2 linked regions of the Homo sapiens genome follow. The protein of the gene in region 2 interacts with the protein of the main gene of each other region in a biochemical or structural test. Each region holds a gene or a part of one and is shown on either strand. Other genes may lie near its edges.

Region 1 (4,624 bases), on a different chromosome or scaffold from region 2:
TAAATCTAAGTTGTCTCTCCTTCAGGCAGATTAAGCTTTTTGTGTAAATACTGCGTGTTCACTGAAAACTGTGACTTACATTTGACCAATCCTGGGATCAAGTCCAATTTCAATTTGTAGTAATACATGAAAAGGTTAGGAAGTATAGGGAAATGTATATCTGGATGATGGAAAGCAGGATGGAGTTATTTTCTTTTCCTTTCAAAGGAGGAGTATTAACAAAATATATATTTTGTGGTAGGCACATGAGGGATGGCCAAAAGAGTAGAAGAGTTGGGAAAGAATGGCAAAACATAAAAAATACATAAATCTAATGTTAGATTATATGATAGTGAGCAAGGCTAAATCTAATGTTAGATTATATGATAGTGACCAAGGCTAGGTATACAGAACTGATAAAGGTTGGGTTGGAGAGCATCTTATAGAAGAGGTAGGATGTGGATTGGGCTTTGAGTGATAAGAAGGATTTGGATGAACAGGGAGGAACAGTGAGGGCATTTCCTATGAAAGGTTCAAAATAAAGATTAACAAGGAGCTTGACTTAACTGAGCTGTGTGACTCATGTAGATGAGAAGTGGAAAGTAAGATATAAGTAGGTAGTAGAGGAACTTGAATGCCAAACTAAGGAGTTGACAGATTGGAGTGGAGTATAAAAAGAAACGACAGTATCTGGAGATTGAATGACTGTACTCACTGCTGAAAGTTTTGTTTTGTTTTTTTTCTGAGACAGGGTCTCTGTTACTGAGGCTGGAATGCAGTGGCGTGATCACAGCTCACTGCAGCCTCTCTTTCCTGGGCACAAGAGATCCTCCCACCTTGGCCTCCCAAAGTGCTAGGATTACAGGCATGAGCCACTGCACACAGCCAAAGTATCCTTTTTTTTTTGAGACGGAGTCTCACTCTGTTACCAGGCTGGAATGCAGTGGCGCAGTCTCAGCTCACTGCAACCTCCGTCTCCTGGGTTCAAGTGATTTCTCCTGCCTCAGCCTCCCGAGTAGCTGGGACTACAGGCGCATGCCACCACACCCAGCTAATTTTTGTATTTTTAGTAGAGACGGGGTTTCACTATGTTGGCCAGGATGGTCTTGATCTCTTGACCTCATGATCCGCCCGCCTTAACCTCCTCAAGTGCTGGGATTACAGGTGTGAGCCACCACACCCGGCCTCAATGTATTCATTTTTAAAGAGGTTCTTAGACATTAATATTTCATCCAGTTCTCAGCTGGTCTTGTAAACCAACAGCGGTTATATTTTTATATTTTCAGTAAGTGTTTTTATGAAACAACATTTTTATGCCATTTCTGTTATAGAAAGTAGAGATTAATTGCTTGTCAGTCAACTTTAGTGTTTGTTTTGGCCATGAGGAAAGGTTTGACAGTGTTCTTCCTAGTCTTATCCATTGGCTTCCTATTCTAACACAAGTCTGTTGACCTGTTTACACCTTGGTTGACCAACTGAAAGTTCTGTATTTTTTGAGACGGAGTCTCGCTCTGTCACCCAGGCTGGAGTGCAGTGGTGTGATCTCGGCTCACTGCAACTTCCACCTCACGGGTTCAAGTGATTCTCCTGCCTCAGCCTCCCAAGTAGCTGGGATTACAAATATGTGCCACCATACTCAGCTAATTTTTATATTTTTAGTAGAGACAGGGTTTCGCCGTGTTGGCCAGGCTGGTCTCAAACTCCTAACCTCAGGTGATCTGCCCGCCTCTGCCTCCCAAAGTGCGGGGATTACATGCGTGAGCCACTGCTCCCGGCCAAAAGTTCATATTTTAATAACTATGACTTGTCAATCAGAGTTTAGCAGATTACTTTAAGCAAACAAGTTAAAATGTACAGATTATTTGATACAAACTCTTAGCTATGTTTTACAAACATAATTGTACCTTTCTCTTGTGTTCCATGTACCTTCTTGGAAGAGTACAGAAGAGAGGAAGTAGATGAATTTTCTTGAGATCAGATGTTAGGAGAACAAGGAGAAAGAAGTCTCCCCTAAAATCTTAGAGGAAGATCAGCTCTAAGTCACGTGTTGATAAATAGGAAGAGCACTGAATTAGACCTAAGATGGTCTAATATCATAGAAAGTGGGAAATGCAGCTACAGAGTATTAATTTTATGTCTCTTTGTGTATCCCAGCCAAGCATAGGCAAGCTTTTCTTGAAGACTGGTGGGAAACAAGGTAGGGTATGGTCCTGAATCAGCATTCTTCAGCCTCTAACCTCAGTAGAACCCTTTCTCAGTGGATCAAGAGAAGGCATTACTTTTTTAGAGATGGCCTCTCCCTCTGTCTCCCGGGCTTGAATGCAGTGGTGCCACCATAGCTCACTGTAGCCTCAAACATCTGGGCTCAAGCAATCCACCCACATCAGCCTCCCAAGTAGCTAGGATTACAGGTGTGTGCCACCATGCCCAGCTAATTTTTGAAATTTTTTGTAGAGACAGGGGTCTTGCTATGTTGCCCAGGCTTGTATCAAACTCCTGGCCTCAAGAAATCCTCCCACTTCAGCCTCCCAAAGCACTGGGATTACAGGCTTAAGCCACTGCACCCAACTGGCACTTCTTTCTTTTTTTTTTTCTGGCACTTCTTGAGAGATGGAATCAAGGGGCTGCTGTAACAAAACAGTTCCCTTAAGAGAAGAAAGTATTATCTCAGTTAAAGATGTCTGATTGTAATTGTCTTTCTTCCACCTATTTCTTTCTTACACCATTGAGACCTTGGCCAGTATGATATCTCTTATCCTCAGCTCTGTTCCTATCATTCTTGCCTGTGTCTTGATCTTTCTAATCTGCTAGTCTGTGTTTCAGTTAGGCTCGTCACATGAATAACCATAACATGAGCTTCTTAAAGGTAGACATGAGATCTTAGTCCTATGTGTAAGGCCTAGTCTTCATACCAGCAGTAGCAGTAACAACCCAGGTCAGGTCCAGAGTTCCTTATTTGCCATTTGGAAATACTTTTTCTTTTCTTTCTCTTTTTTTTTTTTTTTTTTCTCGAGACAGGGTCTCGCTCTGTTACCCAGGCTGGAGTGCAGTGGCAGTCATGGCTCACTGCAGCCTCAACCTATCCTCCAGCGTCAGCCTCCTGAGTAGCTGGGATTACAGGCACATGCCACCACACCCAGCTAATTTTGTATCTTTTGTAGAGACAAGGTTTCACCATGTTGGCCAGGCTGGTCTTGAACCCTTGGGCTCAGGCAGTCTACCCACCTTGGCCTCCAGAAGTGCTGGGATTGCAGGCATGAGCCATTAAGCCCTGCTGGCCATTCAGAAATCTAAAAAACTCCTAAAGTTTTGTTTTATTTTTGCTGTAATGGTGCCACAACTCATTAGGGTATAAAATGTAACCTGAACTGAAGCTATGTTTAGTCTTTATTACTTGCTGTAGATATTAATTGGTTTCACTACAGAAATACTCTTTTTGAGTCAGGGTCTCACTCTGTCACCCAGGTTGGAGTACAGTGGTATGATCTTGGCTCACTGCAGCCTCGACCTCCTAGGTTCAAGTGATCCCCCCACCTCAGCCTCATGAGTAGCTGGGACTACAGGTGCATGTCACCATGCCTGGTTTGTTTTTAAAAACTTTTGTTTCTTCTTCTTTTTTTTTTTTTTTTTGAGACGGAGTCTCACTCTGTTGCCCAGGCTAGAGTGCAGTGATGCAGTCTCAGTTCACTGCAACCTCTGCCTCCTAGGTTCAACCGATTCTCCTGCCTCAGCCTCCCAAATAGCTGGGATTACTGGTGCCTGCCACCACGCCCAGCTAATTTTTGTATTTTTAGTAGAGATGGGGGTTCACCATGTTGGCCAGGCTGGTCTTGAACTCCTGACCTCAGGTGATCCGCCTGCCTCGGCCTCCCAAAGTGCTGGGATTACAAGCATGAGCCACCATGCCTGACCCTGTTTCTTTTCTTTTCTTTTTCTTTTTTTTTTTTGAGACAGAGTTTTACGTTGTCACCCAGACTGGAGTGCAGTGGTACAATCTCGGCTCACTGCAACCTTCGCTTCCTGGGTTCAATCGATTCTCATGCCTCAACCACCCAAGTAGCTGGGATTAGAGGCATGCACCAACACCTTGCTAACTAATGTATTTTTAGTAGAGACGGGGTTTTGCCATGTTGGCCAGGATGGTCTTGAACTCCTGACCTCAAGTGATCCACCCACCTCGGCCTCCCAACGTGCTGGGGTTACAGGCATGAGCCACCGTACCTGGACTTTAAAAAGTTTTTGTAGAGATGAGTTCTCACTATGTTGCTCAGGCTGGTCTCAAACTCCTAAGCTCAAGCAATCCTCCCACATTGGCCTCCCAAAGTGCTGGTATTACAGAAATGAGCCACCACACGCAACGTCACTACAGAAATATTAATGTATTTAATTATGTGGTACTGTCCAAAACATCTTGCCCCCAATGGATTGGGGTAACAGTTGTGGGCCTGTGCATTAATTTAAGGTACTATTCTGAACATGTTAATTTAATCCTTAAACAGTAGCCTTAATATGAGATAGATGTTTTTTATTATTATCATTTTACATCCAGGCTACACTATGTAGTGGAAGAGCTGGGATTCAAAACCAGGCAGAACCCCCTTGCTTTTTTTTTTTTTTTTTTTTTTTTGAGACAGAGTCTTGCTGT
Region 2 (5,674 bases):
CTCGAGAGGCTGTGGCAGGAGGATCCCTGGAGACCAGGAGGTCAAGGCTGCAGTGAGCTGTGATTGCACCGCTGCACTCCAGCCTAGGTGACAGAGGAAGACCATGTCTCTAAAAACATTTTTTTAAATATAAATAAAGGCAGCCCAGAGCAGCTGGAGGATATGGATCCATCACCCAGGGTTCGTTGGTCTCTGCACCCTGTGATTTCAGGGCTGCGTTTCTAAAGCACCTACTGTGCCTGCCTCATACCTGAGGGCCTTTGGGGCACGGGGCGGTCCCTCAGCAGCCTTCATCCTGTCCAGCCTCAGATTCAGGCTCCTGCAGTGCAGGCCCCACCTTCCTCCCAGGGTGTCTCCGCACTTCTCCCACCCGACTCCACAGCTGCGTCTCAGACCTCAGCCCTCCCTGTGCCCCTCCTGTCTTCTCCCATAACCCACCTTCCTCTCCACCTCACTCACTCTGCTCTTTCCTCTGGAGCCCCACTCTGGCTTCACTCCTTAGACCCTGGGACACCTATTTAGCTGATTAACTCCTTTTCACAGCCTCCACAACCAGCCTAGCACCAACCAAGGTTGCCTGGTAAACTGGACGCAGAAAACCCTGGTTCAAGCCCACCTCAACCATTAAAAGCTATCTGACCTTGGACAAGTCAGGTTTTTTTTACCCCCTCTGGCCCTCAATGTACTCCAAAATAAAATAGGGGCCATGTCCTGCCCATCGCAGGGGGCTTGTGTGGTGTTGAAGAGAAATAAACAAGCCATCTGCTGGGTAACAGACACACAGCACTGCTGGGCGCCAGGCCCCCTCCTAGGCACCTGATGCATATTAACTACTTCCAGTCCTCAGGACAACCCTGTGAAACAGGCACTCTTACTTCTCCCAACTCATACGCGAAGAAATTGAGGACCAGAGAGGTTAAGCAACTTGCCCAAGGTCTCACAGGAAGTAGCAAAATTAGAATTTGAACCCAGACAGTCTGGCTCCCGAAACCACTGTGTGACAAACGGACTTGAGAACCCCTTGGGAATGCCAAGGTACTGTTGGAAAGACAATCAGTCCCCTGGGCTAATGTCCCCTCCCACCACCGCCCCTGCCTCATCCCTCCCAGTGTCTCAGAGACCCCGTTTCCAGGTCCCCCACACCCTGCCAGGTGTCTCCTGCATCCCAGGCTCCTTGCTTTCAACTGTAGCAGGGAGACCCTTACGCTACCTGAATCTGTCAGCTTTTCCCACCCCGCCCGCCCCCTCTTGAATCTCCAGTTTCCCTGAGCTGTGACTAATACCAAAGCCACCACATCCACTCAGCCCCTTCACCCTTCCACACCACCTCCGGCAGCCACAGCCAACAGGATTCCTTACCTCTGAGCAGGGGCCCCTGACTCATTCATGAGGCCTCCCCCTCCCCTGCCTCCCCCTTACCCCGCTTAGCCTTTTCCCTCCCTCTTTCTCGAATTGTACCCCAATTCCACACCACCTGATCCCAACCCACTTCCATTTCCCTGGGTTTTGGAGTCATGGAATAGTCCTGGTAGCAGGGGAACTGGGTTCAAGTCCGGATCCCTCACCTGCTAGCTGTGTGACCTTTGGAAAGTTATTCAACCACTCTGGGCCTCAGTTTCCCCAACTCTAAAATGAAAGAGCCTCCCCGTCCACTTGCCAGGAGGTCAGTGGGGCTCTAATGACATCACGGATGAAAGCCTGCTCTGCAAACTGAGGAGGGGAATTGACAGCACCGATGCTGAAGCCGGCCTGCCTGGGTTTGAATCCTGCCTTTACCAGCTGTGTGACTTTGGTCTAATTACTTAACCTCTCTGAGCTTAGTGTCCTTATCTATAAAATGAGATAACATATATCTATATATCTAAAAAGATATTTATATATCTATGAAATGAGATAACCAGTCTCATAGGATTGCTGTGAGGATCAAAATGAGTGAATATGCATAAAACACTTCAAACAATGTTTATTATTACTGTCACTTTCCTCATGCCTGAGTGTATATTCAGTAAAAATGTAATAAAGAAACCTTTAAAATTCCCTCCCTCAGCCACCAGCTCCTCCTTGCTTCCCATTTGGCAACCTGTCTGTCCCCAGAGACAGCGGTCACTTGCCTCCAAACACCTTCTTCTCGTCTGTCTGTAACCTGGGTCCCCACCCCCAAATCCAGGGGACAGCTCTTCACCCCCAGTGCTGAAACTTCTGTTTCAAAGGCCAGAAAAGCAGAGACCTGTGTCAACCTAGCAGACAGGAAACCCAGATTGCAGTCTGCCCCCCACCCACTTGCTTGGTGACCTTGGACAAGTCCCTTCCCACGCCTGAATCTCAGTTTCCTCATCTGTCAAGTGGGGTAATAACCCCTGGGGTAACAACCCACCAGTTCCCTGTAAAGGCTCAGTGCATTGGGCAGCTCAGCCGGGGCCGGTACCCTTATTAACATAACACCACCAGCCCAGCACAGTGCGGACTGTCAGTGCTGCCTCCTCGGGCCCCAGGTCATTTCTCCAAATACCCCAGCGTCCTCCCTGCCCCTGAAACCATTCTCATCGAACCCCACTCCCCAGTTCCTCCAGGTAGCAGCCTCCACTGCAGTCCTTCCCCTGTCCCCCCAAAACCAGGGACTGCCTGGCCAGACTCTTGGAGCCGGGCCTCTTCAGGCCTGCAGACCTGGGGCCTGCATCAGCCCTTGACTGCCCGGGGTGCCCCAGTTCCCCCAAGCAGAGCACGGCCCGTGTTCCATGGCCCTCTCCTCTGCATCCCCATCTCCCACCTCTGGGTCACCCTGTCTCAGGCCCTGGCCCTCTGGCTCTCTCCGGAGGCCACCTCTTCCCTCCCTGTCTCGGAGAGATGCCCCCTCCCTATAGGGAGTGACACACGCGTGTGCACACACACACACACTTCATTCACTGCCAGGTGCTGGCATCTCAGTCCCAACCTGTGTCCTTCCCCGTAGCATCCCCTGAATCTGGGTCCTGCTAGACTCTCAGCCTGGCCCAGTCACCGCCCCCATGCTTCTCTTTGGCAAACCTGCCCAGGGGATGACAGTCTCCTCCGGTTTCTCCTGATATCCACTCTCTCCCATCCCCAGACCAGACCCCGGGGCCCTCCTGGGAATGCGGGGTGTTCGAGGCCCCTGAGACCTCTCCTGCCCCCTTGTGTCTTCATGGCCTCCAACCCCTTCCAGGCACTGTCCCCAAAATGCAGGTTCACTGGAGAGACATCAGGCGCCTGAAGATACTGGGGTGCTCCGGCTACCAACCTCCGATCTCATCCTTCGCCCCCACGTCCCAGCACCTCCCCCACTCCATCCCCACGCGCTCCCCCAATATTGGGGTCCCGCCCCCCCATTCTCCCCACCCCCAAGCTCACACTCCGCAGCTCTTGAGTCCGATCCTTCATCCTGCGACGGCTCCTCCTCCTCCTCCTAGTCCTCCTGCCTCTGCTGCTGCTCCGGGTCTCCCGCCTCTGTGCCGGAGGCCGGGGTCTGGGGGCGCCGGGGGGCGCCGCGGCCGCTGCGGGGGGCCTGCGGGCGGGGGCGGGGCCGGGGGCGACTGGCCGAGGGCCGGGCAGGGGCAGGGGCCTGGGCCGGGCTCGGCTCTGCCGGGCTGCGGTGGCGATGCGGCTGCGGCACAGGGTAGGATGGAGGGATGCGGGAGCCGAGCGCGGGGGAGGGGGGCGGAGGGAGGTGAGGAGGAAGCGAGGGCGGGGGGAGCGGGAGCGCGCAAGGAGCAGGGGGCATGCGCAGCACCCGGGCCGGGGGCGCCTGGGGGTTGTAGTCACGGGCTTGGGGGACACCCGAGGAGGGGGCGGGAGAGGCCTGGAGGCGGGTGGGGGTGGGCAGAGCCCGAGGAGCAGGGAGAGATGCGGAGAGCCAAGCGGAGATGCTAGGGTGGCCCGGGGGGTGGGGTGGCCCGGCGGAAAGAGGGGGTGACGGAATGAATTCAGGGAATAACCTGGGAGCCAGGATGTGGATCCCTTTCCAGGAGACACAGATCGCGGCTGTGTTTTGTGTCTGGTGTCTGCGTGAGGCTGCGCGCCGACCACCTCTGGGTGCGAGCCCATGTGTGTTCTTGCAGGAGGCTCTTTGGACACTATAAATAGAAAGACCGACCCTCTGTGTGGTTTTTACGATGCAGGGAACCAGCCAGGTGCTTGCTGAGAAGGACACGGGGCTTGTGTTGCACAGCCTGGGCCTCTCCCGCCGCGGTGGGTCTCGGAGCTCTGCTTGTCTGCCTCCAGGGACAGGGTGCTCACTACCTCCCAGGACCTCTTGGCCCATCTGCAGATGGCTCTGACTGTTGAACATGAAATTTGTCCTTAGTGGGAGGGGAAATCAGGTGCCCCTGAGGGTCTGAGTGACCTCCTGTTCTGATGCCCACCTCTCCTCTCCCCATCCTTACACCACACCAGCTCCTCCCACCCCCTGCAATGGGGCGCCGGTCCCCAATGGGACAGGTCTTGACTCTCAATCGATCCTCCTGCCTCAGCCTCCCAAAGTGCTGGGATTCCATGCCTGGGCCACCGCACCCGGCATTCTCTTGCCAGGTACCCAGTGACCTCCTTGGTGCCAAATCTGTGTCTGATAAACCCTCATCCCACACCGCCAGTCGGGCCTTACCATCCCTGACCTCTCAGCAGCATGTGACCCTGATGAGCCCCTCTTCCTGAAACCCTCCTGTCTGTGGTGCTCCGCCCACCTACCCCCCAACCTGATCTGTGAGTGTTGTCTCCCAGCCTCTTTCCAGGTCCTTACCTTTTTTCCCACAGCCCTTCAACCTCAGGGTTCCCTGGGCTCCGTCCATTCTCTCTTTTTTTTTTTTTTTGAGTTAGGGTCTCATTCTGTTGCCCAGGCTAGAGTACAGTGGTGCAATCTCGGCTCACTGCAGCCTCAACGTCCCAGGCTCAAGTGATCCTCCCACCTCAGCCTCCTGAGTAGCTGGGACTACAGGCACGCGCCACCACACCTGGCTAATTTTATTTTTTGTAGAGACAGGGTCTCACTATGTTGTCCAGGCTGGTTTTGAACTCCTAGGGTCAAGCGATCCTCCTGCCTCAGCCTCCCAAAGTGCTGAGATTACAGGCCTGGGCCACCATGCCTGGCATTCTCTTCCTTCTTTACCTGCATCTTTCTGCACCTCCGTGTCTGCAGTGCCCACATCTGTACCTGCGAGCCAGATCCTCCCCCTGTAAGACAGCCCCTACTATATGCCTAAGCTCTGAGCTGGGCACCAAGAAGACAGAGATTGAAGATGCCACCAGAGCCATGAGTAGATCCATGACTACAGTGGGCATGGCTAGCGCTGACGTGGGGACCTCAAGGAGGTGGCTGTCCCCAAAGTGTTCCTTCCTGTGTTCTCCCTCAGAGATGGCGTCATCTCCATCCACCCAGCCACTCAAAGCACAGAAAGCTGTCCTTGCCTCCCCGCCATTATAATGCCAGCACGTTCTGGGCATCCAACGTGTTGCATTCACTATGCTGGTAGCTCCCAGAAACCTCCCAACCTCACAGTAGCCACTGCTAAGATCCCAAGTGTATAGACAAGGACACTGAGGCTTTGCATGGTCACATAACATATCCAAGTTCACAAGGTTAATAAAGGGCAGGGCTGGGGTCTTGTTTGCTTTTTTTTTTTTTTTTCCAGAGACAGGGTCTCACTCTGTTCCCCAGGCTGGAGTG

What was found.
Region 1: the proteins of STX1B (region 2) and SNAP23 form a complex in vitro, tested with the Homo sapiens proteins (one study listed by BioGRID).

The regions. Positions count from the first base shown.
Region 1 is NC_000015.10:42,515,464-42,520,087, forward strand, and holds part of SNAP23 (synaptosomal-associated protein 23), read left to right. Parts: intron 1-4,624. UniProt on the Homo sapiens protein: Essential component of the high affinity receptor for the general membrane fusion machinery and an important regulator of transport vesicle docking and fusion.
Region 2 is NC_000016.10:31,007,001-31,012,674, forward strand, and holds the start of STX1B (syntaxin-1B), read right to left. Parts: upstream 3,639-5,674; 5' UTR 3,397-3,638; coding exon 3,367-3,396; intron 1-3,366. UniProt on the Homo sapiens protein: Potentially involved in docking of synaptic vesicles at presynaptic active zones. May mediate Ca(2+)-regulation of exocytosis acrosomal reaction in sperm.